Linked DNA regions of Homo sapiens. The protein of the gene in region 2 interacts with the protein of the main gene of each other region in a pairwise test. Each region holds a gene or a part of one and is shown on either strand. Other genes may lie near its edges.

Region 1 (6,615 bases), on a different chromosome or scaffold from region 2:
GTCTCGATCTTTTATTTCTTAAATAAATAATCTATAAGGGCTGTAACAGTTTAAAGTTTATAATTTGGGCCAGGCAAGGTGACTCACGCCTGTAATCCCAGCACTTTGGGAGGCCCAGGTGGGTGGATCACCTGAGGTCAGGAGTTTGAGACCAGCCTGGCCAACATGGTGAAACCCCGTCTCTGCTAAAAATAGAAAAATTAGCCCGGTGTGGTGCCACATGCCTGTAATCCCAGCTACTTGGGAGGCTGAGGCAGGAGAATCGCTTTAACCCAGGAGGCAGAGGTTGCAGTGAGCTGAGATCGCGCCATTGCACTCCAGCCTGGGTAACAAGAGCAAAACTCGGTCTCAAAAACAAAAAGTTTATAATTTGGTTTGCTTTCATTATGCTTGCTTTCCTTATGGATGAATAAATTAATTCAGATTCATAGTCCTATTTTGGTGTCAAAAGATTTAACTATAGGTCAGGCATGAGACTGTCTCAAAAAAAAAGAACTATAGAAGGTAAATCATTTCAAAGAAATGTGGAAATTTGCATATAATCACATATTTATCAAGATATACAGTTTTTAGTATGTAGTACATTGTTTTCAAAATAATATATCTTAATTAGTTCTGTATAACTTTCCAATTGATTAAAGATCTGGTGCCATTGTATTATTCAGTACCAGAAATGAGCTGTATTTTTGCTTAATAACTTCTTTCATGTTTTACTTACAGGCATTTTTTACTGTCTACAGAAACTTATTGTAATTCATTTTTCCTCACTCCAGTAGTAAGAATTATACCAAGTAAGTGGACTGTATTGAAACTAATTAATTTTGTAACAGTTAATGAGAATTTAATTGGATAGTGGTTGCTGCATGTGTTGTGTTCTCAGTGGAACGTTGAATGTGACCTCATAAATAGGAAAATGATTTTTTTCTTGAAAATTATTTATATTCTGATCTGTGTGATGAGTACTTTTTTCTGGAAGCCAGGAGGCCGATACATATTTGTGACAATATTTTTTTAAAGGAAATGTCTCCGCCTTTAGCTTGAAAACTACCTAAAAATACTTCCAATGGTAGGAAATGTGCCTATAAAACTCCTAGTATGGTGCCATAGGCACAGTGTTTCTTTTTTTATATATACACAAAATAAAATGACTTAAACATGTGGTTTATTGTAATTATCCAGTTCTCACAATTTATATCAACATTTGAAAAAGAATTTTTTAACCTCCGTAAGAAAGAAAACAGAAATCAGTTTCTGCCTTGAAACCTGACTGGAAAACAATCTGAAATACAAACAGAGGCATCATTTAACACTTTTCTTATACCATAGATTTTCAGGTGGCTCACATATTTCATATTGCCAATAAATTCTTCAGTTAGAATTTTTATAACGTCATTAACAGTTGTTATTTGTGACATATTTGTTAATTTTTTCTCGTTTTTTAGATTGAAAAGATATGAATGAGTATCCTAAAAAAAGAAAAAGGAAGACTCTACACCCTTCTCGTTATTCAGGTCAGTGTATAATTATTTTAAAGTTGGGTATGGATTAATTCCCACAAAATTATATTCTCATCCATTTTCTCCTAAGTGATCAGATAAGACTTAAATATCTGGGTCAATATTTAGGTAAAACAACGGTTTAAATACATTATCTGAATATATATTCCTTATTGTCTACCATGTGCTAGGCACACATAAGAACTTTACAGACATTATATTATTCCTCACAGCTCTATGGGTTATAAATATTTAAAATTAGATAGCCAAGGTTATTTACTTATATAACATAATTGGGATTTGCATGTCTGATACCTAAGCTGTGCTTAAGACCCAATAATGACAACCTTGGTAGAAAATATTTTACATTATTGGGGAAAAAAGACTTTATCCTCTTTATTACTTTAGGAAATGTAAACTTTCATGCTGAATGTGTAATTTTTTTTTTTTTTTTTTTGAGACAGAGTCTCACTCTCTAGCCCAGGCTGGAGTGCCATGGTGTGATGTCAGCTCACTGCAACCTCTGCTTTCTGGGTTCAAGTGATTCTCCTGCCTCAGCCTCCCAAGTAGCTGGGATTACAGGCGTGTACCGCCACACCTGGCTAATTTTTTGTAGTGTTAAAGTAGAGATGGGGTTTCACCATGCTGCCCAGGCTGGATGACTGTGTAATTTTAGATCCTTTCATTGAGGTTGGCTCTGCTGTGTTGGCAGTATAAGAAAAGGGGTCTTTGTGGCCATCTCTAATACACCTCGCATACATTTACTTGGGACCATCTCAGTCTTACCTATTAGTCTACCCAGCCTACACATTCTTCATATCTGAAGAAATTAACCCTAGTATACTGCTTACTGGCCCTTCCTAGACAACACTTGAAATGACTATATTCAGAAGCCCTAAGTGGTCCTTACCATTTCCCCTATGTAACAACCTTTCTCTGCATGACATGGCACACCTTCCTGGTGTTTATTTCACTGTTTTGTGCAGTTAATACAGTGTTTATCATATATTTTTATTTTGTGTGATTCTGAGTATAAAACAAATGTATCCTTGTATATTTCAAAGTTGTTATGTTTTAGAGTATGTAATTTGTGGTTCTTTCAAAGTCCTATGTCAATATTGGATCTGAAATATAAAAGCTTTAAAAGTTGAAAATGTATAATATTTTCATTACAGATACTATAATTAACATTAAGAACATTTGTATAAGTTAGATAACGGGAAGTTTCTCATTAAATATGTATGTTTACTGTACTTGAAATATTTTTCATTTTATGTTCAGATTCCTCTGGAATAAGCAGAATTGCAGATGGATTCAATGGAATTTTCTCTGATCATTGTTACAGTGTCTGTTCTATGAGACAGCCAGATTTAAAATATTTTGACAACAAAGGTATATCTAATATTTTCGAAAATATGTTTCTTTAAACTGCTTTTACATTTTTTATTCCTTACTTGAAAATGTGGGTAAAATGTGGATTGATGATTTCAAAACAGACAAGTCTTTGAAATTTGTTACAATGTAAGAAAACAAAGTTGTATTTTTTTAAGAAAGCAAGTAATTTTAACTATTCTTTTTTTTTTTTTTTTTTTTTGAGATGGAGTCTCGCTTTGTCGCCCAGGCTGGAGTGCAGCAGCGCGATCTTGGCTCACTGCAACCTCCGCCTCCCAGGTTCAAGCAATTCTCCTGCCTTAGCTTCCTGAGTAGCTGGGGTTACAGGTGTGCGCCACCACGCTCAACTAATTTTTGTACTTTTAGTAGAGACAGGGTTTCACCATGTTGGTCAGGCTGGTCTCAAATTCCTGACCTCATGATCCGCCCACCTTGGCCTCCAAAAGTGCTGGGATTACAGGCTTGAGCCACCGTGCCCGGCTGTAATTTTAACTTTTAACATTATTTCTGACATATAAATAAAAAAGTGCACTCTCCTAAGTCCATTTTTTGAAGGGGGTGGGGTTAGGGGGAGACAGTCTTCATTCTGTCACCCATGCAGCCATGTCTCACTCCATGGATTATGGCTGACTGCATTCTTGACCTCTTGAGCTAAAGCAATCCTCCCACTCAGCCTTTTGAGTAGCTGGGACTACAGGCATGCACCACGATGCCTGGCTAATTTTTAAAAATTTTTTTGTAAAGACAGGGTCTTGCTGTGTTGCCCAGGCTGGTCTTGAACTCCTGGCCTCAAGCAGTCCTCCCATGTTGGCCTCACAGAGTGCTGAGATTGCAGGTGTGAGCCACGGCTCTCAGCCCTAAATCCACTTTAGTTGGTTAGGAATTGGTGGCAATGCAGGAGTGACTCAGAGTTGGAGTATTTATGTTGAAAGGTTAAGAATAGTGTTAGACACAGTTCTACTCAGCTATACCACATAGTGTGGAAGAAAAGAACAGAGGGTGATTTGGTATTTTTCAATGTTGGATCTTCTATTGGTTCCTCTGTTCTACAGCATTGGTGAATGATAACAATTTACAACTTGCACTTAAGTTAGAGAGTTAGAGACATCGGTATGAATTCCTGTTTAGCTTACTATAGATTCAGATGGCTACATACAGAATGCTTGTAGATATGTGTGTGTATATATATGTGGTACTGTACACACACACTTTGCTGTGTTAGCTGAGAGGGGCTAAAAGAAATGACACCCAGAAGCAGTGAGCATGAGCACATTCAGTGCCCAGCTCTTGGTTTCTAATGCCTCCTTGGGAAAATGGCTGATTCTAGGTCTGGGGCAGGAAATATACAAGATGAACCTGGAGCATTTTGTAGTGCTGGAAAATAGGAAAGTACTTAAAAAAACCTAAACACACGCACTTGACAGGGGTATGCCAAAGGGGCACACGTCAACTTAAAGAGCTCCCAACAGCCAAAACTGAAAACTATTTGGGGACAAAAAATTATAACCCAGAGTATAAAATAAATATCCATGAATTCATGCTGTTATAAATTATTAAATAGAGGAGATGAGGCAAATCTGTGCAGAAAAATTCCAAATTATTAGACTTCATCTTAGCCAAAAGGCCAAGAAGCAGTAAAACTCCAAATTATTTATGTAGCTACTCCTCCCTCTAGGAGGTGGAATATAAGTCTGCACTCCTTAAGCATGGTCTGCACATAGTGACTTCTTACAAAAGGTAAAGTATGGAAAGTAAAAGCACAACTTTAGGCCAGGTGCGGTGGCTCACGCCTGTAATCCCAGCACTTTGGGAGGCTGAGGCAGGCAGATCACCTGAGGTCAGGAGTTTGAGACCAGCCTCAACATGGAGAGACCCTGTCTCTACTAAAAATACAAAATTAGCTGGGCGTGGTGGTGCGTGCCTGTAATCCCAGCTACTCGGGAGGCTGAGGCAGGAGAATTGCTTGAACCTGGGAGGCGGAGGTTGTGGTGAGCCGAGATCGCGCCATTGCACTGCAGCCTGGGCAACAAGAGCGAAACTCCATCTCAAAAAAAAAAAAAAAAAAAAAGACAACTTTATAGTGTTGAAACCTGATAGAGACTTAGCCAGGTGATCAAGATCAACATCAACAACCATAAATCATATTGATAGTATGTACCCTTGATAAGAAGTGATGAAAATGGCAATTTACCTCTGGTCTATCTCCCAGTAATCCATAATTCCAGCGTAATCATTTTAAAAAAAAGAAAGCAGACAAATTCCATTAGCAAGGCATCCTACAGAATACCTGATTAGTACTCCTCAAGGAGTGAGAAACTGCCACAGCCAACAATAGCATAGAGAGACATGGCACCTTAATGGAATGTGGTATCCTGGAACAGAAAAGGGACATTAGGTTAAAAACTAAGGGCATTTAGATGACTTTATTGACTTTTATTAATAAGTTACCAGTATTGGTCATTAATTGTAACAAATGTGCCACACTAATGTTAGATGTTAGTAGTGGAGAAACTGGGATACATGGGACCTCTCCATACTATCCTCTCAGATTTTTCTGTAATTCTAAAACTATTCTAAAAAATAAGGTCTATTTTAAGAAAACATGATGGATGGGCTGAGTGTGGTGGCTCACGCCTGTAATCCCAGGTCTTTGGGAGGCCAAGGTGGGAGGATCGCTTGAGGCCAGGAGTTCAAGGCCAGCCTGGACAACATAGCAAGACCCCATCTCAAAAAACAAGAATTACCCGGGCTTGGTGGTGCATGTCTGTAGTCCTATCTACTCAGGAGGCTGAGGCTGAAGGATCACTTGAGCCCAGGAGTTTGAGGCTGCAGTGAGTGAGCCATGATCATGCCAGTGTACTCCAGCCTTGGCAGACTGAGCAAAACTTGGTCCCTCGCAAAATGTTGAAGCCCAGTTTTCACTATTAACCTGTATTTCAGTTTCCCCATGCTAACTTTGAAACACTGGGGCTGGCCTGAGGGTATAAAGGCTTATTCAAACTCAGTAATTTAAACTTAAAATCCTAAGGAACTTCAAAAAGTGTAATCTAGTCCAAATGGGGCATCAATTCTAAAGCATTTGCTTGTTTGAGCAGATTTTCTGTGTCTGAGGTATATAGATAACTTATCTTTTTATGACTAAATCCAAGTCCTTAGTTCCTGTTGGAATTCAAAATCATATTTAAAAATTGATGCTTTGTTCTATAATTAATGCTTTGATTGTATAAATAATAAGTATTCTTCCAAATCCCTTTTTACAGATGATGATTCTGATACCGAGACGTCAAATGACTTGCCAAAATTTGCAGATGGAATCAAGGCCAGAAACAGAAATCAGAACTACCTGGTTCCCAGTCCTGTACTTAGAATTCTAGACCACACTGCCTTTTCTACAGGTTGGGGGAACTAATTTATAGCATTGATATATTTTGTATTGGTGAATTTTAAAAAAAGTGCATGCAATAAATTTTTTTTTGCCCAGTTGTATTTAACAGATCTTATTTAGTTATAGTCATATAATAGGTTTGTTTTATTCTTCAGAAAAATCTGCTGATATTGTAATTTGTGATGAAGAGTGTGACTCACCTGAATCAGTCAACCAGCAAACCCAAGAGGAGAGTCCTATAGAAGTTCACACTGCTGAAGATGTTCCAATTGCTGTAGAAGTGCATGCGATTTCTGAGGATTATGATATAGAGACAGAAAACAATTCCTCTGAGAGTCTCCA
Region 2 (2,357 bases):
CAGCTCAGGGCTGGACTCTAGGAAACTTTCTGAGGCTGGAGGGTGGGCGTGGGGTTGAGCTCAGCTGTTGAAGCAGGTGTTTGCAGATGTGCCTCAAGCAGAGGTGGTGGGCGGGGCTTGGAGGAGGTGGGTGGGGCAGGCCAAGCTCCTTGCCTCTGGTGGGCGGAGGCGGTCCTGGCTCAGATTCCACACCCTTGTCCACGCAGGTTCCTACTATCTGACCACCACCTACGGGGCCCTGGAGCACATCAAGAGCTACGACAAGATCACGGTGACCCGGCAGCTGAGTGTGGAGGTGCAGGACTCCATCCACCGCTGGGAGCGCCGGCGTACTCTCAACAAGGCCCGGGCCTCCCGCTCCTCCGTACAGGTGAGGCCTGAGAGCGGGAGGGGCCCGGTGGGGCCATGTCCCAGACACCATCCCTGCTGCCTGCTGGCTAAGGAGCCGTGACATCACCTGGCTGCTCCAGCCGCCCAGCCCTGCCTTAGGGGAGCAGTGAGACTCCCCACACCAGAGGAAGGGCCCCCAGCCCCTGCTGCCAGTGTGTGTCCAGGACTTGGGTGCGTCTAGAAACATATCAGCAGGCATTGGTGTTCTCCCTGGGCAAGCAGGAAGGGTGCAGGAGGAATGAGACACACCCATCATTCCTTAGCCCCTCCTAGGACCCAGCACCCTGCAGGGGCTGGAGATGGGGACTTGTCATCCCAGTCCCTGCTTTAAGGAGCCCACAGGCTCATCTACAGCCTTGCTCCTTAGTCCCTGGACAAATGCAGCAGCTGCCAAGGGTCTGCGTAACCCCCACCAACCCAGTGGCCCACCCCTCCCCATACCTCTCTCTATACAGACTCAGTATTCAAACCAGTCCCGCCCCTCCCCAACTCCATCACCCCACCCACCCCCAGGCTGCATCAAATCCAGCTGCCCCCAGTTCCCCAAACATGCCCAGCCCAGTTCACTGGCTGCTCAACCGCTGCCCTCACTGGTCAATCTCCCCTTCTTCACTGGCTGTCACTGCCCATCCTTTAAGACGACTCAGTTTCTCCAACAGCCCCTCCTCTGAGAAGCCTTCCCTGATACACACACACACCGTTTCACACAGGCTGGGTGGGGTGCCCTCCTCTGGGCTTCCTGCGGCCTCCCCTTTTACAGTGCATATCACATCCTATCATCCTCTGCATATGAAGCTGTCACCTCTGGGAGGGCACAGCCCATGGTTCACATGCCTCAGGGGCGCCAAGCCCAGGGCCTGGGACAGAGCAGGACTGGGTGTGTAAAAAAGGGTGAGAGTTGGACTAGTGAGCCAGGCACATCCAGAGCTGTGAGCAGCTATGCAGACTCACTCCTCTGACACCCAGAGCAGACCAGTCCTGAGCCACACTCCTGGCTTTCAAGATGGTGCATCTATAATAAGCAGAGCCCAGGCCTGGGAGACAGGAGGCTTGAGTTCTGGCCCCAGCCCTGTACTAGCTTGCTGTGTGACCCTCAGCAATCCCTGCCCCACTCTGGGACTCAGTTTTCCTGCCCACACAGGCTGACTATGGCTAATCAATTTAATAACTGACTCTCTGGGGAGAAAACAAAAGCTCTGATTTTAGCTTCTGTCCATTTCCATGGTGTGAGTCCTCCATGGCCAACTTCAACTTGGCATCACTGAATGTGGAGTTGGAAAGAAGTGTATGCAGTCGGCTCTCCCTGGCGGGTGTGAGCCAGCTCCAGCACACCTCTGTTCCCATCCCCTCCCAACACCCCGGACTCCCACAGACTGTAGGGACATGGACACTCTTGGTCCAAGCCTGGCCCAGGCATCCCGTACTTCCTGCTTCTACCTTAGGGGTTCCTGATGCTGAGCCAGGCAGAGTATGGATGAAACGGACCACCCACTGTTTGGGAGACGGAAGCTTCGGAGGGGGGTCCCCTCAGCACCACATCTGGGATCTGGGGAGGGCACCACCCTCTGCCCCCTCCCAGTGCCTCCTCCGCACACCATGCCTTGGGGGGTGGGCACCCTTCCCTGGGGAGGGGAAGCCCAGAGCTGGACAGTCACTAGCAGGTGGATAGTGCCCTGGGAGGCCTAATGGAGGACAAGGAGCCCTGAGGCAGCCACTAAGACGGAGGGAGTGGGCCGGGCTTTTCCCCTCCTGGAAGAAATGGGCGGTCCCCGTGAAGCTCTTGACAGGAGCCCGGCCTCGCCTAAGCCCTAGCCACCAGTTGCCATCACGGTCTCCGCCGAGCCGGGATCCTCAGCCGCTTCCCGCGCAGGCCTGCTGTTCCCAATCCGGCCACAAGGGGGCAGCCCCGCGCGCAGCCTCTCTGCCTGCAGCCCTGAGCCCCGGGGAAGGCGAGGCCGCTCCGGGCC
Region 3 (7,213 bases), on a different chromosome or scaffold from region 2:
AAAACTCATGATTAATCCACCCCTTGTTTAGCATATAATTAAGAAATAATGATAAGTATCCTTAATCAAGCAGCACATACTTCTGCTCTGCCTATGGAGTAGCCATTCTTTTGTTTCTTTACTTCTCTAATAAACTTACTTTCACCTTACTCTGTGGACTTGCCCTGGTCCTTCTTGCACAAAGTCCAAGAACTCTCTCTTGAGGTCTGCATTGGGAACCCTTTCCAGTAACATTATGGCATAAGAATTTCTCATGTTATTAAAATAGTTTTAAATAATTGTGATGGCTATACAATATTTTGTCTTATGGGTACAATGTAATTTTACCGTTGTTGGCTCTTTCTGCTATTTTCAATTTTTTTTTCCTATGATAAAATGAAGACAAAGTCTATAGAATAAAAAATACAGTGACTAGACGTCTGGAGACATAGGAACACCTGAATATAGAATTGTCTGTATTAACCTTGCTTGTATTCTCATTTCAGGAGAGTGAGCTCTCAACAGGGTCTACTAAAGAGAAAGCAGAGGGTAACAAATTGTCAGCTTGTCTCCAAAGCAGTGTGAGAGTATTCTAATTTTGATGAACCATCCCAGAAATAGTTTGAAGAGAAGTATGTAGGTATTTCAACAGACTTATTGGAAGTACTCAAGGGCATTCAACTCTCATTTTTCTAATTCTGGGATCATGCTGCTGAGGTATAAATTTATGGCTAACTGATTTATAAATTAACTAGAACATCCTGTGCAAAGATTTGGTTCTTTAGCCAAATACAGACTAGGCACTGGTTCATAAATTAATCCCTCTTAGGTGGCTGGTGTCACTTCCCAGAAGCATGATAACTGTGGCACAAATAGAACCAGAATGGCCAGGTGTGGTGGTGCATGACTGCAGTCCCAGATTCCTGGGAAGCTGATGTGGGAGGATTGCTTGAATCCATGAGTTCTGGGCTGTAGTGTGCTATGCCAGTTGGGTGTCTGCACTAAGCTCAGCATCAATATGGTGGCCTCCTTGGAGCAAATCACCAGGTTGCCTAAGGAGGGCTAAACGGGTCCAGGTTGGAAATGGAGCAGGTCAAAACTCCTATGCTGATTAGTAGTGGGACCATGCCTGTGAATAGCTACTGCACTCAAGCCTGGGCAATAAGCAAGACCCTGTCTTGGAAAAAAAAATATACCCGGAATGCAGTATTTCTAGATTTATAGAACACCATCATGGTTTTGATAATAACTGGTGAAGCCCAGCCTGGGAAGCAAGATAACTAGCCTCATTCTTTCTAAAAACACTTCTTTGCTGCATTAATAACCAACAGAGGAATTCAACTCCTTGGAACCTTCCTTCCAGGATGCATACAGGTGATGGTGTAGTGATACCTGTGAATTGCAACATGACTTTTTCAGTCTCAGTACTGTATCTAGTTCATGGTATAATCTTGGGAATGTTAAGGATGCAACTGGGAGCTTCACTAAGTCCTCTGGATTCCCTGGCTACCACTAAGCATACTAAGACATAGCCTAATTGTCCCAAAGAATTAACAGAGTTGGGTTTCAATCAAACCTGTCACCATTGTTTTAAATTATGGGCTCTAATAGAGCTGGCATTGGAACTTGAAAAGAAACTCATGTAATTATATTCTTCTAATGATATAGCAAATGAATTTTTGCTTTTAGAAAAAATATTGGGTAGTGAAGAGCCACATTCTTTTTTATCCACCTAAACTGATTACACACACTTAGCAATGGAACAAAAAATTAAAGGTATAACAGGTACCAACTTCATACAAAATGCACACACACAGAGGATATATAAATGTGTGTACACATACACATATGTTCCTTGGCCCCTGTCTGCTGTTGATAAATCAAAATCTAGATAATAGTGTGGTTTTGTCTTGAACATTTCTATCTGAATGAAAACAACACAGTGTAGGAGTTCCTTGCCCTCGCTTTGAATGCTTAGGACAATGCAAATTGGGGTTTCCCAGCATATTGCAACCGAATCCTCTTCAGGCCCTGTCAGCTGTGCTCCAGACAATGCCATCCCCAAAGACAGAATTGCTATGGTTCATAACAGTGAAACCCACAGGACAAGTGTCCAAGAGTTTCACTCCTTTCTTTTGTGGAAACAGCCTCCACCCTCAGGCAAAGAGGAAACCCAGGGTTGGCCTTGACTAACAGCTTGCATAGGTATGGTGGAGCCAGGGTGTTTCAGTAAGGGTGGTGTGGTCATTTGCCTCTGCATTTATAGTAAAAGAAAACTGATAATGGAGTCCCAAGAGACAGCAGTCAGGGAAAATATGAAACATCAAGTCCAAGAGAATGAGCAAAAAGCAAAGCCAAACTTTCTGGTGGAGGAAGCAGTAGGGTGTGGGGTCGGGATTTTTTTCTAAGTGCACACCCCTGCAGCAGAGTAACCAGCCAGAGCTGGGGGAAAAATTAGGATAGCTACCTGTTAGGCATGTAGGGGTGTGTTTGCATGTTTAGTACGGCATAAATTCTTCAAAGACCTGATGGTCTTTAATATTCCAACCAACTCTCGTTTCCCCATTTTGTCATTAAATTAGCTTAAAGAGGAACTTGTAGCTTTTAGAGAACTCATGAGTTTTCCGCTTCATCATCTGCTTCTGTTTTCTCCATCTTAGTTTGCCCAAAGCTTGCTGGCCGCTGTGTAGGGCTGGTGAGTGGCTGGGGCTGTCTGAGCCATGAACAACTTCAGGGCCACCATCCTCTTCTGGGCAGCGGCAGCATGGGCTAAATCAGGCAAGCCTTCGGGAGAGATGGACGAAGTTGGAGTTCAAAAATGCAAGAATGCCTTGAAACTACCTGTCCTGGAAGTCCTACCTGGAGGGGGCTGGGACAATCTGCGGAATGTGGACATGGGACGAGTTATGGAATTGACTTACTCCAACTGCAGGACAACAGAGGATGGACAGTATATCATCCCTGATGAAATCTTCACCATTCCCCAGAAACAGAGCAACCTGGAGATGAACTCAGAAATCCTGGAATCCTGGGCAAATTACCAGAGTAGCACCTCCTACTCCATCAACACAGAACTCTCTCTTTTTTCCAAAGTCAATGGCAAGTTTTCCACTGAGTTCCAGAGGATGAAGACCCTCCAAGTGAAGGACCAAGCTATAACTACCCGAGTTCAGGTAAGAAACCTCGTCTACACAGTCAAAATCAACCCAACTTTAGAGCTAAGCTCAGGTTTTAGGAAGGAACTCCTTGACATCTCTGACCGTCTAGAGAACAACCAGACGAGGATGGCCACCTACCTGGCAGAACTCCTGGTGCTCAACTATGGCACCCACGTCACCACCAGTGTCGACGCTGGGGCTGCTCTTATTCAGGAGGACCACCTCAGGGCCTCCTTCCTCCAAGACAGCCAGAGCAGTCGTAGTGCCGTGACCGCCTCTGCTGGACTTGCCTTTCAAAACACCGTGAACTTCAAATTTGAGGAAAACTATACCTCGCAGAATGTCCTCACCAAGAGCTACCTCTCAAACCGAACCAACTCCAGGGTGCAGAGCATTGGAGGGGTTCCTTTTTACCCAGGCATCACCCTCCAGGCCTGGCAGCAGGGTATCACCAACCACCTGGTGGCCATCGACCGCTCTGGCCTGCCGCTGCATTTCTTCATCAACCCCAACATGCTACCTGACTTGCCAGGCCCCCTGGTGAAGAAGGTGTCAAAGACAGTGGAAACTGCTGTGAAGCGCTATTATACATTCAACACCTACCCTGGCTGCACAGATCTCAATTCTCCCAACTTCAATTTTCAGGCCAACACGGATGATGGCTCCTGCGAGGGGAAAATGACCAACTTCTCTTTCGGTGGGGTTTATCAGGAATGCACTCAGCTCTCAGGGAATAGGGATGTCCTCCTCTGCCAAAAGTTGGAGCAGAAGAATCCACTCACTGGTGATTTCTCCTGCCCCTCTGGCTACTCCCCGGTGCACCTGTTATCCCAGATCCACGAGGAGGGTTACAACCACCTGGAGTGTCATCGAAAGTGCACTCTCCTCGTCTTCTGCAAGACCGTGTGTGAAGATGTGTTCCAGGTGGCAAAAGCTGAATTTAGGGCTTTTTGGTGTGTGGCCAGCAGCCAAGTACCTGAAAACTCAGGACTGCTTTTTGGGGGCCTCTTCAGCAGCAAGAGCATAAACCCCATGACAAATGCACAGTCATGCCCAGCCGGCTACTTTCCACTGAGACTCTTTGAAAACCTCAAGGTATGTGTTTCTCAGGACTATGAGTTGGGAAGCAGGTTTGCGGTCCCCTTTGGCGGGTTCTTTAGCTGCACAGTTGGGAACCCCCTGGTAGATCCTGCTATATCCAGAGATTTAGGGGCACCGTCTCTGAAAAAGTGCCCCGGGGGCTTCAGCCAGCACCCAGCCCTCATCAGCGATGGATGCCAAGTGTCCTATTGCGTCAAATCCGGGCTCTTCACAGGAGGGTCCCTGCCCCCTGCCAGGCTCCCACCTTTCACCCGGCCACCCCTCATGAGTCAGGCTGCCACCAATACTGTCATAGTGACCAATTCTGAGAATGCGAGATCCTGGATTAAAGACTCCCAGACCCACCAGTGGAGGCTGGGAGAACCGATAGAGCTGCGGAGGGCCATGAATGTCATCCATGGGGATGGTGGTGGTCTGTCAGGAGGGGCTGCAGCTGGGGTCACAGTGGGGGTCACCACCATTCTGGCTGTTGTTATCACCTTGGCCATCTACGGCACCCGGAAGTTCAAGAAGAAAGCATATCAGGCAATTGAGGAAAGGCAGAGTTTGGTTCCAGGCACTGCAGCAACTGGAGACACCACTTACCAAGAGCAGGGGCAGAGTCCAGCTTAAATCTCTCCCCGAAAATGGTTTCTCTCATCTCCAGTGTGGTCATTGCTGACCACTCTGTTTTCCTAAGCATTGAAATGGCAAGTGCAACCAAAAGTAGGTATATTCGTGACTTCTTGTTTAGGTCTCTGGGCCAGGAAATTCATACTGTTACATGGATAAGGTTGGGATTGGGGAGAGGGAACAGTTGGGACTAGAAGCAAAAGTGATTCTGGGACTAAAATAGGAAGCAGATGTCCTTTCCCAATGTGTGTTGCTGTCTTCACCTGAATGCATTTGTGTAAAAATAGCGGAGGGACAATGTGAACATTTGTATTTGGAAGCTATGAATTTACTCTGAAGTTTGCAGTTGTTTCCAATTTGTGAGCTCTAAGAGTTTCTGCCTGTAAGAACTACTCTCCTTTTATTTTGATTTTTAAAAACCTGTCTGAATTTCACACTCTTAGAGCCTGGAAGAGCCCTGAAAAGACACAAGTCTTGCCTGGCTACTGCTTTTTAACTTTGAGGGCTCTATGTTGACAGACTGTTATCTCCTCTGGGTGACCTCAAACATCTGAAAAGAAAGATGTTGCCTGTGCCAATTCCACTTTTTCCAGCTGCCCCTTGATGAACACTCCCTTATACCAGACCACTCTTGGACTTCTGACTGGTGTCATCAAGTCCTCAGAAAATATTTTAAGTTATTTTAAGTTATTAAGGAAGGGATGATTTGGAGACAAGGAGTAATGAAAGATGGGTAAAAACTGGAAAAGATTCTGGTGCTAAGTACTACCCCTTCATCTTCCATGGATGGTCATTACCTTTCCTGTCCTCCTGTTATATGAACACACACACACACACACACACACACACACACACACACGCACACACATACCACATTTCAATAAGTCTTCATTGTTCTGGGTCCTTACCTTTCCTGTCCTCCTGTTATATGAACACACACACACACACACACACACACACACACGCACACCACATTTCAATGTCTGCATGGTTCTGGGGGTAACAAAGGCAAGAAGTTAAAGTAAGACCACATTTGAGTATTACTTACTCTGTAGAATCAAAACAGAGTAGTTAACACCAATTATGCAAACTACTTTTTTTTCCAGCAGAAAGGGAGCTGACATGATCAAATCCATGTTTTCAAATGAACTGAAAAAGGCATCCAGCACCACTTATAACACATTTATTTCAGTTCCAGGCTGACAGCCCTGGGGCATCTAGCAGGATGCATAATTGTCATCTGGTGAGAGTTGGGACTTTGCTCAATTTTAATACCAATCTCTCCTGATTGTAATTACCTCCACTACTTTCATGATCCCCCTACAATATTTTTTTAAATGATATATTTATTCACTGAATCAAATGTCATTAATGAGTTATCTTCTGTGGAGGATGACTGTTCTCTTTGTTAATGTTCACAATCAAGATCTTGGGCTGAGAAGAGGCCCTTCACCCAAGGAGTTTGAAGTATCACAGTGTGTGGGAAGGTGGGAACCAGGATACCCATTCATTTCCAACCGAGACACAGAGAAGTGAGTCACAGAATTTGAGCCCGCTCTCTTGACTGCCCAGCCAGAGACACTGATTTCTGTAACCTCTTCACTTGATCCTGCCTCTTAAGCATTAAAACATTCTCCTAAACCTCTGAGTGTTTTGTGGGTTCTGGGTGTTTTGTACATTTTAGCCAAGCTAACCACTTGTCTGCAAGTACTGACTTTCCTATGAATTCTTTGAAGATTATTGAGTCAGAAAGGAAAAATATAGCCCCAAATTCCCAGGCTTTTAATGCATTACATTAACTGCCTATTGAAATGAGAAGTTCTTCACAAACTTGTATACCCACTAACAAGATTGCACATAAACATGCATTAAAGTATATACTAAGAAACCCTCTGTCCAACGGCTCATGCATATGAAGTCCGAACATGGGAGTTTGCCAATTGCATTCATCAAGTCGTTTTGCGGAGTCAGATCCCTGATGGAAGAGCTCACAGGCTCTGCCTTCCAAGTCCTGGGTTCCTAACTGGTGACCTTAGCCTGGGGTCTGTGGGGAGACCAACCCTGGCTTCCAAGAAAACCACATTCCATGGACTATCAGAAATAGACACAGATTTGGGTGACAAAGCTGGCTCTGTATTTGCATTTTATTTTTGTGTTCTTGTCAGTTTGGGAATGATTAATATTAAACATTTATTTGAGAAACAACAGCCTGTAAATAATTTAAACACACACTATATTGCAGCCAGGCAAAGAGACCTTTAAAAGTGAATATTCGTGATTCTAAAAGTGTTTTTCTCCCACACGTTCACTTACTCATTTTCCCAGCAATGTGGTCTGTTCCTTTAGGCAAACAAAGTCTAGCC
Region 4 (6,615 bases), on a different chromosome or scaffold from region 2:
GGAGTCAAAAGAGCTGAGGTAAGCCGTGGCTCTGCAACTTACTATTGTATAATTGTGAACAACTCACTGATTTACATTGACACATTCATTCATTCATTCATTCATGTACTCAATAAATGTTTACAGAGGACTAATTCTGGCCCAGGCCTTGTGCTAAATTCTCGGAATATTAAGACAAAACAGGCTTGCCCTCAAGGAACTCAGAGTCTAGACCATCAGCAAATATGCAAGCAGTTGTTGTGGAGGTTGGTAACTGACAGTAACAAGAAGGGTAGAGACAAGTGTACACACCTTCTATGTCTCAATATAAGGCATTCTCCCCCCAAATTCATCTTCATAAAAAAGATATGCCTTGTGTTTAAAGCCTTATAAAGTCTCTCCTGCTGTAAGACATTCTTCCAATTATTTTATTTACTGATTTAAACTTTTTTTTGGTACAGATATTTTTTAACACATACAATGTTGACAGAATAGTCAAATAAAGTCCCAGAATAAACTCCCTTGCCCCACACTCATCAGCCCCTGGCTAATCCTACCTCATCTACAACCTTATCTTCTTCCTCCACTCCCATATTCAATTACTTTATCTTTTAAAAAAGATAATATCATTTGAAGAAGGCATATTAGCCTGAAATAACCTCATTCAATGCTGGATTGCTTATAGGGATCATTTGATGGAAATGTTTTTTTAAAAGGCAAATACATTTAATGCACACATATTATTATTCCTGGGGATATTATCTCCCTATTATAAGCACTGAGCATCACTATAAACAACCTTTAAGAATCATTGTTGCAAAGCAATGTAGCAAGTCATTACATGGTGGAAATTCTATATCTTTTAAAAAATCTGCCCTAATGCTATGCTAATAGGTCCTTCTTGTTGAGATGCAATTTCTAGGTGACAACCTCCTACTCAGGTATAAAACAGGGCTGCCTCTTTAAACGTACAGATAGAAGTGAAAGTGAGCTGCTCAGAAAAGCTGGGCCAGCTGCCCCCAGAAATGATTCTGGTGGTGAGGGAGATGCCGATGTTGAAGATGCAAAGACAGAATTGGAGATAATTATTCCCCAAATTTATGTGGGATTAGAAAAAAGTAACCTTTCCAAATCAATATATTGTTGATTTATATTACTAAATTAAAATTATAAGTAGATATTTGACATTTTTATTTATATCTTTAAAAGTTTCCTTTTAAATTTGCAAAATAAATCTTTCTATAAATCCTCTCTTTGGAAAAATGAGGGCTTGATTGCCTTATACTGGAGGATACTTTACATTAGGTAATATACAGTAACCAGGGGGCTTGAGCCAATAGAAGCCTAAGGAGTTAATAAGGCAGGTCTACCCCCTTCCCCACCTCCTCTGCTTCCAGAATTTGACCAAAATTAGCCTCAATGGCAATTGTCTGCTTGAATATCACAGTGTCCTTCAAAGGCTGTGGTAAGTACAGAAAGTGCTCAATCCTGATTCTTTTATGATTAAGAAAAAAGTAAGTTTCTCTCCTGCCTTAACCCACCCCCTGCCAACGCGCGCGCCCACAAACACACACACACACACACACACACACACACACACACACTTCCCTGATGTCATTTGGGAAGACTCAGGGATGCAGTCCTTAGCAGGTCTGAGACTATATATCTCGTTCTAATGCTAGCTTCCACCCTTTTCCAGCTGGGAACCACTGAACCCAATTTTGTCATCTGTGAGATCGGGACTGTCTTGGAGTGCACAACTCAGGGCAGATACTCTGGTCAGGAATCAACATTGTATTCTTGGCTCAGGGGCCCCTCATGCTGGGTCTCTGGCCCCGAGCATGGCATTGGGAGTGCAAAGAAGGGGAGAAGGATTTCAATTCCAATCCCATGACCCTTCCTTTTCCTGGCAGTGGCCTGCAGGAAGGCTCTTGACAGCACGACAGTCGCGGCTCATGAGTCGGAGATCTACTGCAAGGTGTGCTATGGGCGCAGATATGGCCCCAAAGGGATCGGGTATGGACAAGGCGCTGGCTGTCTCAGCACAGACACGGGCGAGCATCTCGGCCTGCAGTTCCAACAGTGAGTTACTGCCCTGCTCCCCCTTGCCTGTTAAAGTCTCCAATTATCAGGACAGTTCATTTCGTTCCCATAGCAACGTTTTCTGGAAGTGGGAGAATGGACTCTATTGTTGACTTGCCAACAATAGGAATACTCAGTCTGACCAAGTTTGAACAATGTGTCATCTCTCCAAAGACTCTCTTTAAATTATTTGCCATTCTAAAGGGCAATTACTTTTACACCATGGCTCTTGGTTTGCATGTCAAGAGAAAACCCAGGATGTACAGATGTTCCATTGTTTGACCTTTGCAAAACTGCATGGAGTCTCCTTTCTTCCCCGTTGAGAGTTTCTGTGTAAATCACACAAATATGGCAGGGCAGCAATGGCCATTCTTTGTGTGCCTGTCATGAAAAGATTTCTTCCCTTGGATTGTAAGATGACAAACGTCCACATGGCAGGGGGAGTGTGTCTGCAAGGATGGGCTGTGCCTCAGAGTAAACAATCAATCATGATTTTTCTGGGGGTTCCCTGGCTGCCTGTTGCCAATACAGTGCTAGAGTTCCCGCCACATTATCCTAGGGAAGCTGGGACATCACTCTGGCCACCTCCATCCACCAGTCTGGTCCCCTGGGTCCACTTTCTTGATAACCACATTGACCTCCAGCCCAGAATTGAGGAAAGTCTGATGGCCACTGGCCTGACACTACTCTCTGGCCAGCTGGCCTCCAGGCTGAGCTCTGCACTGCGACTGGCCAGAAAGGCCCAGCCCAACCAAGGAAGTGTCCCATGGAGGGCCTCCCCCAGAGAGCACTTCAGCCATCTGAGGAATCAGCTGATCCCTTCAAAAGAGAGTAAGCCACAGGAGAGCATGGAAACGTGGAGAGATGTGTGATTAGTCATCTTAGAGAGAAGACTTCTTTTTGTTAGTTTGTCTTATTACTCAATCTCAAATGGAGACTCTTGTTAAGGAAGAAAACATACCACTGCATTCTCTGCCTCACATTGACTGAAGTTCACTTTTCAACATTAGGGCTTCCTAGTGATGCTGCACAAAGAGTAACAAGGTCTGAAGACCTAGGATTTCCTCCTAGGTCCATCATTCATGAGCTGCCTGGCCTTGGGCAGTCACACTCTGATCCTCACTCTCCTCCAACCAGCCCTGCCTACCTTATAGGGTTGTGGTACAGCTCAAGTGATATAATATACAAGCAAACACCAAAAGATACCAACACATGAGAGGCTATTATTATGTCTCTATTTTGGACATTGTTCTCCTGGGACAGGTGACCCTTGGAGGCAGGACGACAGCCTGGCTTGTGATAAGGAATGCATCAGCTCATGGACTGTGGTTCATCAGGAACTGATTAGCACCCATTGTCAAAATCCCACCTTGCTCTGTAATTTTCACAACTCTCTTTAGAAAGGAAAGAAGTGGCCTTGCAAATGGTCCAGAAAAACACAAATAAGCACAGTAGTAATAACAACACAACAACAACAATAACACAAGCTAACATAACTAGAACATTTGCTAAGTGCTTCACAACAAAAAGGAAAGCTCTAAACCCATTTTAGCAAACATTTATTAGCCCTTACTACATGCCAGGCGGGCACTGTTCTAAGTGCTTTACAAATGTCGCCTCATTTAACCCTCTCAACAACGCTATGAGAAAGACACCATCATTATCCCCATTTTCCAGATGAGGAGTCTGAGACACACGGAAGTGAGGTCACTTTCTCAAGGCCACACAGCTCTTCTACTCTTTGCCAAGGGAAATCTACGTTTCATTCATTCGTCTATTTCCAACAGGTCCCCAAAGCCGGCACGCTCAGTTACCACCAGCAACCCTTCCAAATTCACTGCGAAGTTTGGAGAGTCCGAGAAGTGCCCTCGATGTGGCAAGTCAGTCTATGCTGCTGAGAAGGTTATGGGAGGTGGCAAGGTAAGACCTTCTGTATGAGCCAGACAGAATTTGCTCATCTCCACCAGGCCATTTGGGAGGAATGAGAGAAAAATTGGGAGCTGCAAGCAGCTGTCATTCTCTCTAGCTCCCAGAACAACTTTAGAAACCACACATCCTCAGCCACTTTCCCAGGCTGGGGCTGTCTGTCATCTAGCATTGCCCTTTGAAAGCTGGAACTGGTGCAGTTTGAAGCAGCAAGCATTATTCTACTAGATGGAAGGCACCCAGCTGAAAGTTCTGGGATACAAAGCAAAAGCCCGTCTACCCTCCAGTGTCCACAATCCCCCCAAAAGATGTCAGCCCCAGACCAACCACTGCCTAACTCAACCTGTTGCTGCCACCATGACCAATGGATATAGCAGACGCCTCACAGTAGTGAGAAGCATCCTCACTTACGAACTTCCTGGCTCTCAGGAAAGTCATCAGATGTCCGAGACACTCATGCATATGTGCTCTGCAAGTTCCAGTTTCAGGCCCAAAGCCTGGGTACTCACCAAAGGAGTCAGACCTGAGGAAAGAGAAAAATTATGTTTATACCACATGGTGGGAGGAAGGGCCGTGGGGAGCATCTAACTTCAAACACAAGGGCAGGCTCCACCCTAAAACTGGCCATTTGAAGACATAGGAGAAGCCCTGGGCTGTACCTGGTAGACACGCAGATGTGCAGGAGGATGGAGATCTAGAACATCGAAATTATGCAACTCTGCCTCAGAATTACACAGAGGAATTAAACCAGAGAGTTAAAACAAGGTTGAATTCCCTGAACAATTGCCTGATTTCTTTATTTTTTTTCCTTCTGTAACTTTATACTCAACATAAACATCACCCAGTGCCCCCAGCCCAAGTCCTTCTCTGACCAGTTTGTTCCTTGGATCTTTTTGGCCTGGGGAAGCCCTTTCCCGTTTAGTCTATTCTGAAGGAAAACATATGCAAATCACCATGACAAATCCATTTTCAGGCTTCTGAGAAGTGCTGGCTAAGGCCATAGCATCTCATTTTCTCCAAACCCCTGGAGAAATTATGGGGCCCATTAGGTAAGCAAATGGTTAAGACGTGTCACTCCTCTGGATGCTGCTGGTCAGGGACTTGAAATGGAAACAGAATGTGTTGCCTACCTCATTAAATATGCAACTTTTCTGTGCCCCTCAGCCTTGGCACAAGACCTGTTTCCGCTGTGCCATCTGTGGGAAGAGTCTGGAGTCCACAAATGTCACTGACAAAGATGGGGAACTTTATTGCAAAGGTGAGTGATTCTGGAGACTTTCTTGAAATATGTTTTCCCTAAAAGGGCCCTTGGGAGAGGAAATTACGTTCATGCCTGGAGGTCTTCCCGTGTCTTCCAGGAGGTATGGCTGCTCAGCCTGGGCAGCGTTGGGTTCTCAGGAGCAAAACCACCTAAGGGGAGGGAATCTCCCACCTGACCCAGCTCTGGTCCTCTCCACTGGAGCACCTGGCAGAGACCAGATGCTTTCAGATGCTCAGTGGTTCGGGAAGTTAGGCACCTGGGGGAGAGAGGAAGGGAAGAGGAGGAAACAGTGCCCTGCCTCTGGTCTTGGAAGAGGCCTCAGGCCAGGACAACTAACACCACACCCCCTTCCAAAAATCGAAACACCATCTGTTCACCTGAGTGGCAGAGGGGGTGACTGGAGGAGGGTGAACTCAGTTTGGCCTCACTGGAGTTTATCATGACATGTCTATCTCCCTCCTGCCTACCCCGCACTAACAGTTCTGTTGTCGATGTTGCACGTTACTTAGTGATCATAGGGACAGATCTGGTTTTCCTCCTGGTCCTTGCAGCTCTGACCCTCGCTGCCTCCATAATCCCTTGGTCTTGTGGAGAAATAGTAGAGGCTTAGCTCCTTCTTGACACTATCAAAGGAAGGAATGCACTAGGGCCAAGGCAATGCGTCCTCCACCCCTGAGCCTAGGCCTATTCTGTTGCTCAGTGGAGTTTCATCACTTAATGATGGTGTCTCAAGAATCTCCAAAGGAGTATGTTGGAATGAAGTGAGAGGAGCAATGGAAAGGGAGTTAAGAGAGAAGACTTTATAAGTCATAACTGTACTTTGCTGTATTAGTCTGTTCTCATGCTGCTAATAAAGACATACTCAAGACTGGGTAATTTATAAAGAAAAAGAGGTTTAATGGACTCACAGTTCCACATGGCTGGGGAGGCCTCGCAATCATGGCAGAAGTCAAAGGAGGAGCAAAGTCACACCTTACATAGCAGCAAGCAAGAGAGCAAGTGCAGGAGAACTGCCCTTTATAAAACCATCAGATCTCGTGAGGCTTACTATCACGAGAACAGCACGCCCAGTGATTCAATTATCTCCCGCTGGGTCCCTCCCACAACATGTGGGGATTATGTGAGCTAATCAAGATGAGATTTAGGTGGGGATACAGCCAAACCATATCAGCTGCCAAAGCTTTTCCTGTGATGACACAGGATGGGAACTAGCTCACTATCTGACAGATGATTGCCGTCTCCTGGCAGTAGAAGACCTACGGGGTCCTCAGCCTTCATAGCTCATAATGCCCTAAAATATTGCCGAAGTCAGTAGGGAAATTAACATGTAAATGAATAATTGCATTGCAAAGTGAAAAAAAAAGTCT
Region 5 (6,615 bases), 7.0 Mb from region 2:
AGCACTCTAATTAAAGGCAGAGATTGTCAGACTGTATAAAACAGCAAGAATCAACTGTGTGCTATCTATAAGAAACCCATTTTAAATATAAAAATGCAGATAGGTTAAAAGTAATATAACAGAAAAAAGATATAACATGCAACACTAAGCATAAGAAAGCTGGAATGGAGGCTGGGCATGGTGGCTCACGCCTGTAATCCCAGCACTTTGAAAGGCTGAGGTGGGCAGATCACTTGAGGTCAGGAGCTCAAGACTAGACTGGCCAACATGGTGAAACTCCATCTCTACTAAAAATACAAAAATTAGCTGGGTATGGTGGCAGGCACCTGTAGTCCCAGCTACTTGGGAGGCTGAGGCAGGAGAATCACTTGAACCCTGGAGGTGGAGGTTGCAGTGAGCCGAGATAGCGCCATTGCACTCTAGCTTGGGCAACAAGAGCGAAACTGCTTCTCAAAATAATAATAATAATAATAATAATAATAATAATAATAATAAAGCTGGAATGGCTTAAAGTAGACAAAATATACTTGGAGTAAAGAATGTTATTAAGAATAAAGATGAACATTTCTAAGGATAAAAGAGTCAATTCATCATAAAGACAAATCCATCCTAAATGTGTACACACCTGATAACAGAACTTCAAAATGCAGGAAGCCAAACTAATGGAACTGAAAGTAGAAATAGATAAATCTATGATTATGAAGGGTTCAACATTCCTTGCCCTGCAACCACTAGAACAAGTAGACAGAAAATTAGAAAGGATTTAAAAGATTTGAATAACACTATTGACCAAATTGACCTAATCGACATTTCTAAAACACTTTATTCAACAATAACACAACATACACTCTTTTTAAGGGTTCATTAACATTCACTTTGATGAACCATATGCTGGGCCATAAAACAAATTTCAATTAATTTAAAAGGACTGAAATCATGATGATGAGTATTCTCTCTGACTTTACAGAATTAAATTAGAAATCAATAACAGAAAGATATCTAGAATATCCCCTAATATTTAAAAATTGAATAACATACATCCAAATAATCCATGGTTCAAAGAATAAATCACAAGGGAAGTTAGAAAATATTTTGAACCAAATGAAAATAAAACATATCAAAATTTGTGGTAAATTTGTCCTAAAGCAGTGCTTAGAAGGAAATGTATAGCTCTAAATGCTTACATTAGAACAGAAAAAATGTCTAAAATCAATTGTTTAAACTCCATCCTAAAAATCAGAACAAGAACAAATTAAACCCAAAGTGAATACAGAAAGGAAATAAGAAAGAGGAGAAATTGGCTGGGGGTGGTGGCTCACGCCTGCAATCCCAGCATTTTGGGAGGCTGAGGCAGGCAAATCACTTGAGGCCAGGAGTTCGAGATCAGCCTGGCCAACATGGTGAAACCCTGTCTCTACCAAAAAAATAAAAATTTAGCCACGTGCAGTGGTGGGCGCCTGTAATCCCAGCTAGTCGGGAGACTGAGGCAGGAGAATCACTTGAACCTGGGAGGCAGAGGTTGCAGTAAGCTGAGATCACGCCACTGCACTCCAGCCTAGGTGACAGAGCAAGACTTCATCTCAAAAAGAAAAAAAAAAAAAGAGGAGAAATCAATGAAATAGAAGACAAACAATGAAGGAAACCAATAAAACTAAAAGCTACTTATTTGGAAAGATGAATAAAATTGATAAACCTTTTGGTGAACTGATCAAGAAAAAAAAAAAAAAAGAAAACCCAAATTACTACTCTCAGGAATGAGAGAGGGAACATATCACAGATCCTACAGACATTAAAAAAAAAAAAAGAAAGAAAATCTCATGAACAACTTTATGCCAATAATTTAAGCAAATTATGTGAAGTGAACAGATCTCTTGAAATATGTGAATTATCAAACTCAAGAAAACAGAAAATCTGAATGCCATATGTCAACTAGAGAAGGAAATGCTGAAACATGCTACAAGATTAATTCACTTTGGAAACATTATGCTAAGTGAAATAAGTCAGATGCGAAAGGACAAATGCCATATGATTACACATGTATGACGCACATAAAGTAGTCCAATTCACGGAGACAGAAGGTAGAATAGTGGTTTCCAGGGTCTGGGGGGAGGGGAATGGGGAGTTATTGTTTAACTGATACACAGTTTCAGTTAGGGAAGATGAAAAAGTTCTGGAGATGGATGGTGGTGATGGATGTACAACAATGTGAATGTCTTTAATGCTGCTGAACTCTACACCTAAAAATGGTAAATTTTATGTTATGTGCATTTTATCATAATTTAAAATTTAAAACATACAATGTAAACAAAATTAAATTTGTAACTTAAAAAAAATAAAAATTTCCCTCAAATAAAACTCCAGGCCCACATGACTTCACTGGTGAATTATATCAAATATTAAAAGAAGAAATAACATCACTCCCATACAAACTTTTACAGAAGATAGAGGAGGAAGTTACCACTTCCCAACTTATCCTATGAGGTCAGTATTAACCTGATGTCAAAACCAGTCAAAGACATTACAAGAATCAAATAAATATGGAAACAAAAACTCTTAACAAAATATTAGCAAATTGAATCTAACAATAATTAAAAGATAATATATCATGACCAGGAATGCAAGATTGGTTTAACATTTGAATATCAATCAATCAGTATAATTCACTATATCAATATATATCTTTAAACTTCTTTTCTCATTAAGCATCACGAAAGTCTTTGTGCATGGTTTTTGGTAGCATGCTTTTACAAGTCTTAAATTGTGTCTATGTTTGAAATTAAACTTTTAATGAAAAATTATTTTTAACATTCTGCTAGAGATTCCTGGTTATTCATTCAACCTGTCTCCTTGTCTTGACTGTAAGTTGTATTTTATCCCTCTCAGAGTCACCACAGCCACCCTCCATTGCAGAGAATTGCCCCACACATCTGCTGCGCACCCATGGTAAGAAAAAAAATGCATCATTGTTTATTGAGCAATTGCTGTGTGCCAGGCAGGGGCTAGATGGCTCATTTATATTATTTTAGTTCTATTCTTACAACCACCCTGTAACAGAGGCACCAACTCTATTTCACAGATGAGGAAATGGAGGCCCAGAATGAAGCAACTTGTCCAAGGTCCCACAGCCAGTTGGTGGCAGAGCCCGGAGTTGAGCCCAGTTCTGCCAACTCCACAGCAGATACCCATTCTTGGAACCTTCATGGCAGACAGGACAGACAATGCCACCTGCCTTGGTTCCCTCATTTCACTTCTTTTTTTTTTTCTTTTTTGGAGATGGAGTCTCACTCTGTCACCCAGGCTGGAGTGCTGTGGCACGATCTCAGCTCACTGCAACTTCTGCCTCCCGGGTTCAAGCGATTCTCCTGCCTCAGCCCCCCAGGTAGCTGGGATTACAGGCGCCCACCACCACACCCAGCTAATTTTTGTATTTTTAGTAGAGATAGGGTTTCACCATGTTGGCCAGGCTGGTCGCGAACTCCTGACCTCAGGTGATCCACCAGCCTCAGCCTCCCAAAGTGATGGGATTACAGGCATGAGCCACTGTGCCTGGCCCTTTTTTTGAGATGGAGTTTCACTCTTGTCACCCAGGCTGGAGTGCCATGGCACGATCTCTGCTCACTGCAACCTCCACCTCCCAGGTTCAAGTGATTCTCCTGCCTCAGCCTCCCGAGTAGCTGGTATTACAGGTGCCTGCCACCATGCCCAGCTAATTTTTGTATTTTTAGTAGAGATGAGGTTTCACCATGTTGGCCAAGGGACTAATAAGAGTCCCTACTCCTATGAGGATTAAATGCGTCACTAATTGTGAAGTGCATAGAAAAGTACATAGTAAGCACTCTTTAAGGATGTTTTGACATATTATTTGTTAAATAAACTGATCAATTTTTAATTCTTATCATAGCCCTGGAGATAGAGTTATAATTCCCATCTCACAGATGAAGGAACTGAGGCAAAGAGAGGCAAACTAAACGTGTGTGCACTAGTTGGGCAAAACTTCCAACCCAAATGGGGACAGCAAGGTCCCCATCTACTCCCCACATCAAAAGGCAATGCTTGCAAGAGTCCCCAAGGAGTGGGTGCTTAGAGGGAAAGATGCCATTCCTTTCTGGATCTTTGGGAAACCAGCCGAAATGCGCCTGGCTCTGGAACATTCATCCAAAGTCTCTGGGACCAGGCTTCACTCCCCCAACCCAAGGAAAGGCAGGGAACTCCCTCATGGAAACCACTCTTCCTCCTACCTTAACCGACTCAGGACTCGTGACGATGACTGAGGTTTTGTGGAAGACGTTGACCCGCACAACAGGTCCATACTTCTTAGCCCTGGAAACCAAAGTGACCCGAAGGAAACTGTCAACCACCTGAGGTATGACCATCACCAACCCCGCCCAGCTGAGAAACCGATGTTTCCCGTCCCAGAAGGTGCTCAATGCATGCTACCAAAAGAGTGCTGTCCTGGGGCCCAGGAGCCCTGGGGGCAAGGCTCTGCCCTGTTGCTCACTTGCCGAGTCATGTCCCCCAGCAGGCCTCAGTTTCCACAGCCATGGAATAGGGTTGGAAACACTCCTTCTTTGATTGTCCCAAAAGGTTGTCCTGGGAATCAAATGATTCGCATCTTTGAAAGTACTTTGAAAAATGTAAAAAAGTGACACACCAAACAATGACTGTTACCTGGTCACACCCCCCCACCCAGTTTACAGATGAGGAAACTGAGGCTCAGAGAGCTTCTGACGGCTGGTCTAAGGTCCTGCAGTGGATGAATGGCAGAGCATGGCTTCCAAGCCAGCCTCACCTGCCTCCACTCAGGGGAGGAACTGCTGGGGCTGGGAGTAACCTGGGCTAGGGGAAGGTGAGGCTGGGAGTCTGTGTGCTGGATTGGGTTGGGGGAGCTGCCCCAAGGGAACCTGGAGTAAGGGCAACAAGTGACAAATGAGAACCCACCAATCCAAAAACACATCTTGGAGCACACGGCCACCAACCTCATCCTTTTTCCAAAAGCAGGGGAGGTGTCCTAGAAGGAAACTAGAAGAAACAGGAAACATTAGGCTTACCAGCAGTCAACAGGAAAGAACGCTCCCTTCCCCACAAGATCTTATTACTAGGCCCACTTCACAGACAGGAGGACCGAGGCATGGGGAGGTTACAGCACTGGCTCAGGGACACCAGGCAGTAAGAATGAAGACAGGATGCAAACCCAGGTCTGACCAGCTCCAAAGACCCCCTTGGAGAAGAAACAGTTTTTTTTCCTGTCTCCCTGGCACAGAAGTTGGGGGCTGGCAGATAGAAAGGACTCAATAATATTGTGTGGGATCACCCTCAGATATTCCCCAATACTGACCAGGCTGGGCACCACCACGCTAGGCTTCACCCCTCCAACCTCCCCACATGGCTGATCAGTCTGTTATTAACCGTATTATATAGGACAGCCGAGATGAAAGGGTGAAGTCATTTGCCCACAATTGCACAGCTGGTACCAGGGCTCCCCAAAGCCCATCTCAGCAAGGGATGGTTTGGTCATATAAATCTGCTGTGTTCACCAAATTGTAAAGAAGCCAGTGCAGTGTCATCCTGAAGCTCATTCCAAGGGGCCCATGACTTCCTGTCTCCTGTATGACTTTATTCCTACCAAGCTCAATGCAGCATCCCCAATGGGTGACAACAAAATCACGTTCTCCCAGGGAAAGGCGGAGAGTAAATAAACAAGTAAAGACAATGTCAGAGGGTGATAGGAGAAAAAGAGAACAGAGTACGGGGAAGAGGAAGGGCTGGGGATGAGTGTGTGGGTGTCCGTTTAAAACCCATTTATGCCTAGTGTTCCATTATTGGAACGCTAAGCTTGTGGAAGTTATTTATGTCCTACTGCTCAAGGTCAACACCAAGGTCTGATTTTTCAAATTCAAAAAATTGCAACCTCAGGCATAAATGGGTTAATGCAGGCAGGGCACGCAGTGTCCCTCTAAGAGGGTGGCTTGTGAGATGAGACCTGCAAGAAGCGGGGGAAGAGCCTTCCAAGCAATGGGAACAGCAGGTGCCAAGGTCCTGAGGTCAGAGTGTGCTTGGACAGTGAGGAAGCCAGTGTGGCTCGGGCAGAGTACTTGAGGGAAACAGAGTACAAGGTGGGTCACCAAGACTGGGGGCAGGTCATGTAGAGCCTTGTGGGCTGTGGTCCAGATTTTTGCTTTGACTTTGGTGAGCTGGGGTCCACTAGAGGGTTTTGAGCAGAGCAGAGATGGGATCTGACTTGGGTTTGAATGGATTGTTTTGCAGCAGTGCAGAGAGTAACCAGGGTAGGGGAGGAAGCAGGGACACTAGTGACAGGGAAGGACTGGGAGAGGTGACGAGGGCTCAGAACAGAGCAGGGCAGCGGAGGCAATGATAAGAAGAGGTCAGATTCTGAATGCTCTGTGAGGCGGAATACTGGAACGTGCCGTTTGGCTATGGGGGTGTGAGGATGACTCTGTGTTTTTGGCCTGGGCTGCTGGAAGAATGGATGGAGCGACCATCTACCAAGATGAGGAGGAGCTGGTTGGGGTGGCAGAGCCACCGTGCCCACCCCCTGCAATTTGCCAGGGCCGTCTCTGGCTCTGCCCACAGGAGATGAACCCACTTTGAGCAGCC

The links.
Region 1: the proteins of RIN3 (region 2) and ZNF639 interact in a two-hybrid assay, tested with the Homo sapiens proteins (one large-scale study listed by BioGRID and IntAct).
Region 3: the proteins of RIN3 (region 2) and MPEG1 interact in a two-hybrid assay, tested with the Homo sapiens proteins (one large-scale study listed by BioGRID and IntAct).
Region 4: the proteins of RIN3 (region 2) and CSRP3 interact in a two-hybrid assay, tested with the Homo sapiens proteins (one large-scale study listed by BioGRID and IntAct).
Region 5: the proteins of RIN3 (region 2) and CYP46A1 interact in a two-hybrid assay, tested with the Homo sapiens proteins (one large-scale study listed by BioGRID and IntAct).

The regions. Positions count from the first base shown.
Region 1 is NC_000003.12:179,326,841-179,333,455, forward strand, and holds part of ZNF639 (zinc finger protein 639), read left to right. Parts: intron 1-124; exon of another isoform or gene 125-504; intron 505-720; 5' UTR 721-791; intron 792-1,442; 5' UTR 1,443-1,453; coding exon 1,454-1,511; intron 1,512-2,777; coding exon 2,778-2,888; intron 2,889-6,148; coding exon 6,149-6,283; intron 6,284-6,428; coding exon 6,429-6,615. UniProt on the Homo sapiens protein: Binds DNA and may function as a transcriptional repressor.
Region 2 is NC_000014.9:92,684,781-92,687,137, forward strand, and holds part of RIN3 (ras and Rab interactor 3), read left to right. Parts: intron 1-206; coding exon 207-370; intron 371-2,357. UniProt on the Homo sapiens protein: Ras effector protein that functions as a guanine nucleotide exchange (GEF) for RAB5B and RAB31, by exchanging bound GDP for free GTP. Required for normal RAB31 function.
Region 3 is NC_000011.10:59,208,352-59,215,564, reverse strand, and holds MPEG1 (macrophage-expressed gene 1 protein precursor), read left to right. Parts: upstream 1-2,637; 5' UTR 2,638-2,699; coding exon 2,700-4,850; 3' UTR 4,851-7,055; downstream 7,056-7,213.
Region 4 is NC_000011.10:19,183,582-19,190,196, reverse strand, and holds part of CSRP3 (cysteine and glycine-rich protein 3), read left to right. Parts: intron 1-1,892; coding exon 1,893-2,061; intron 2,062-3,848; coding exon 3,849-3,981; intron 3,982-5,151; coding exon 5,152-5,245; intron 5,246-6,615. UniProt on the Homo sapiens protein: Positive regulator of myogenesis. Acts as a cofactor for myogenic bHLH transcription factors such as MYOD1, and probably MYOG and MYF6.
Region 5 is NC_000014.9:99,689,485-99,696,099, reverse strand, and holds part of CYP46A1 (cholesterol 24-hydroxylase), read right to left. Parts: intron 5,020-6,615; coding exon 4,939-5,019; intron 4,321-4,938; coding exon 4,239-4,320; intron 669-4,238; coding exon of another isoform or gene 626-668; intron 1-625. UniProt on the Homo sapiens protein: P450 monooxygenase that plays a major role in cholesterol homeostasis in the brain. Primarily catalyzes the hydroxylation (with S stereochemistry) at C-24 of cholesterol side chain, triggering cholesterol diffusion out of neurons and its further degradation.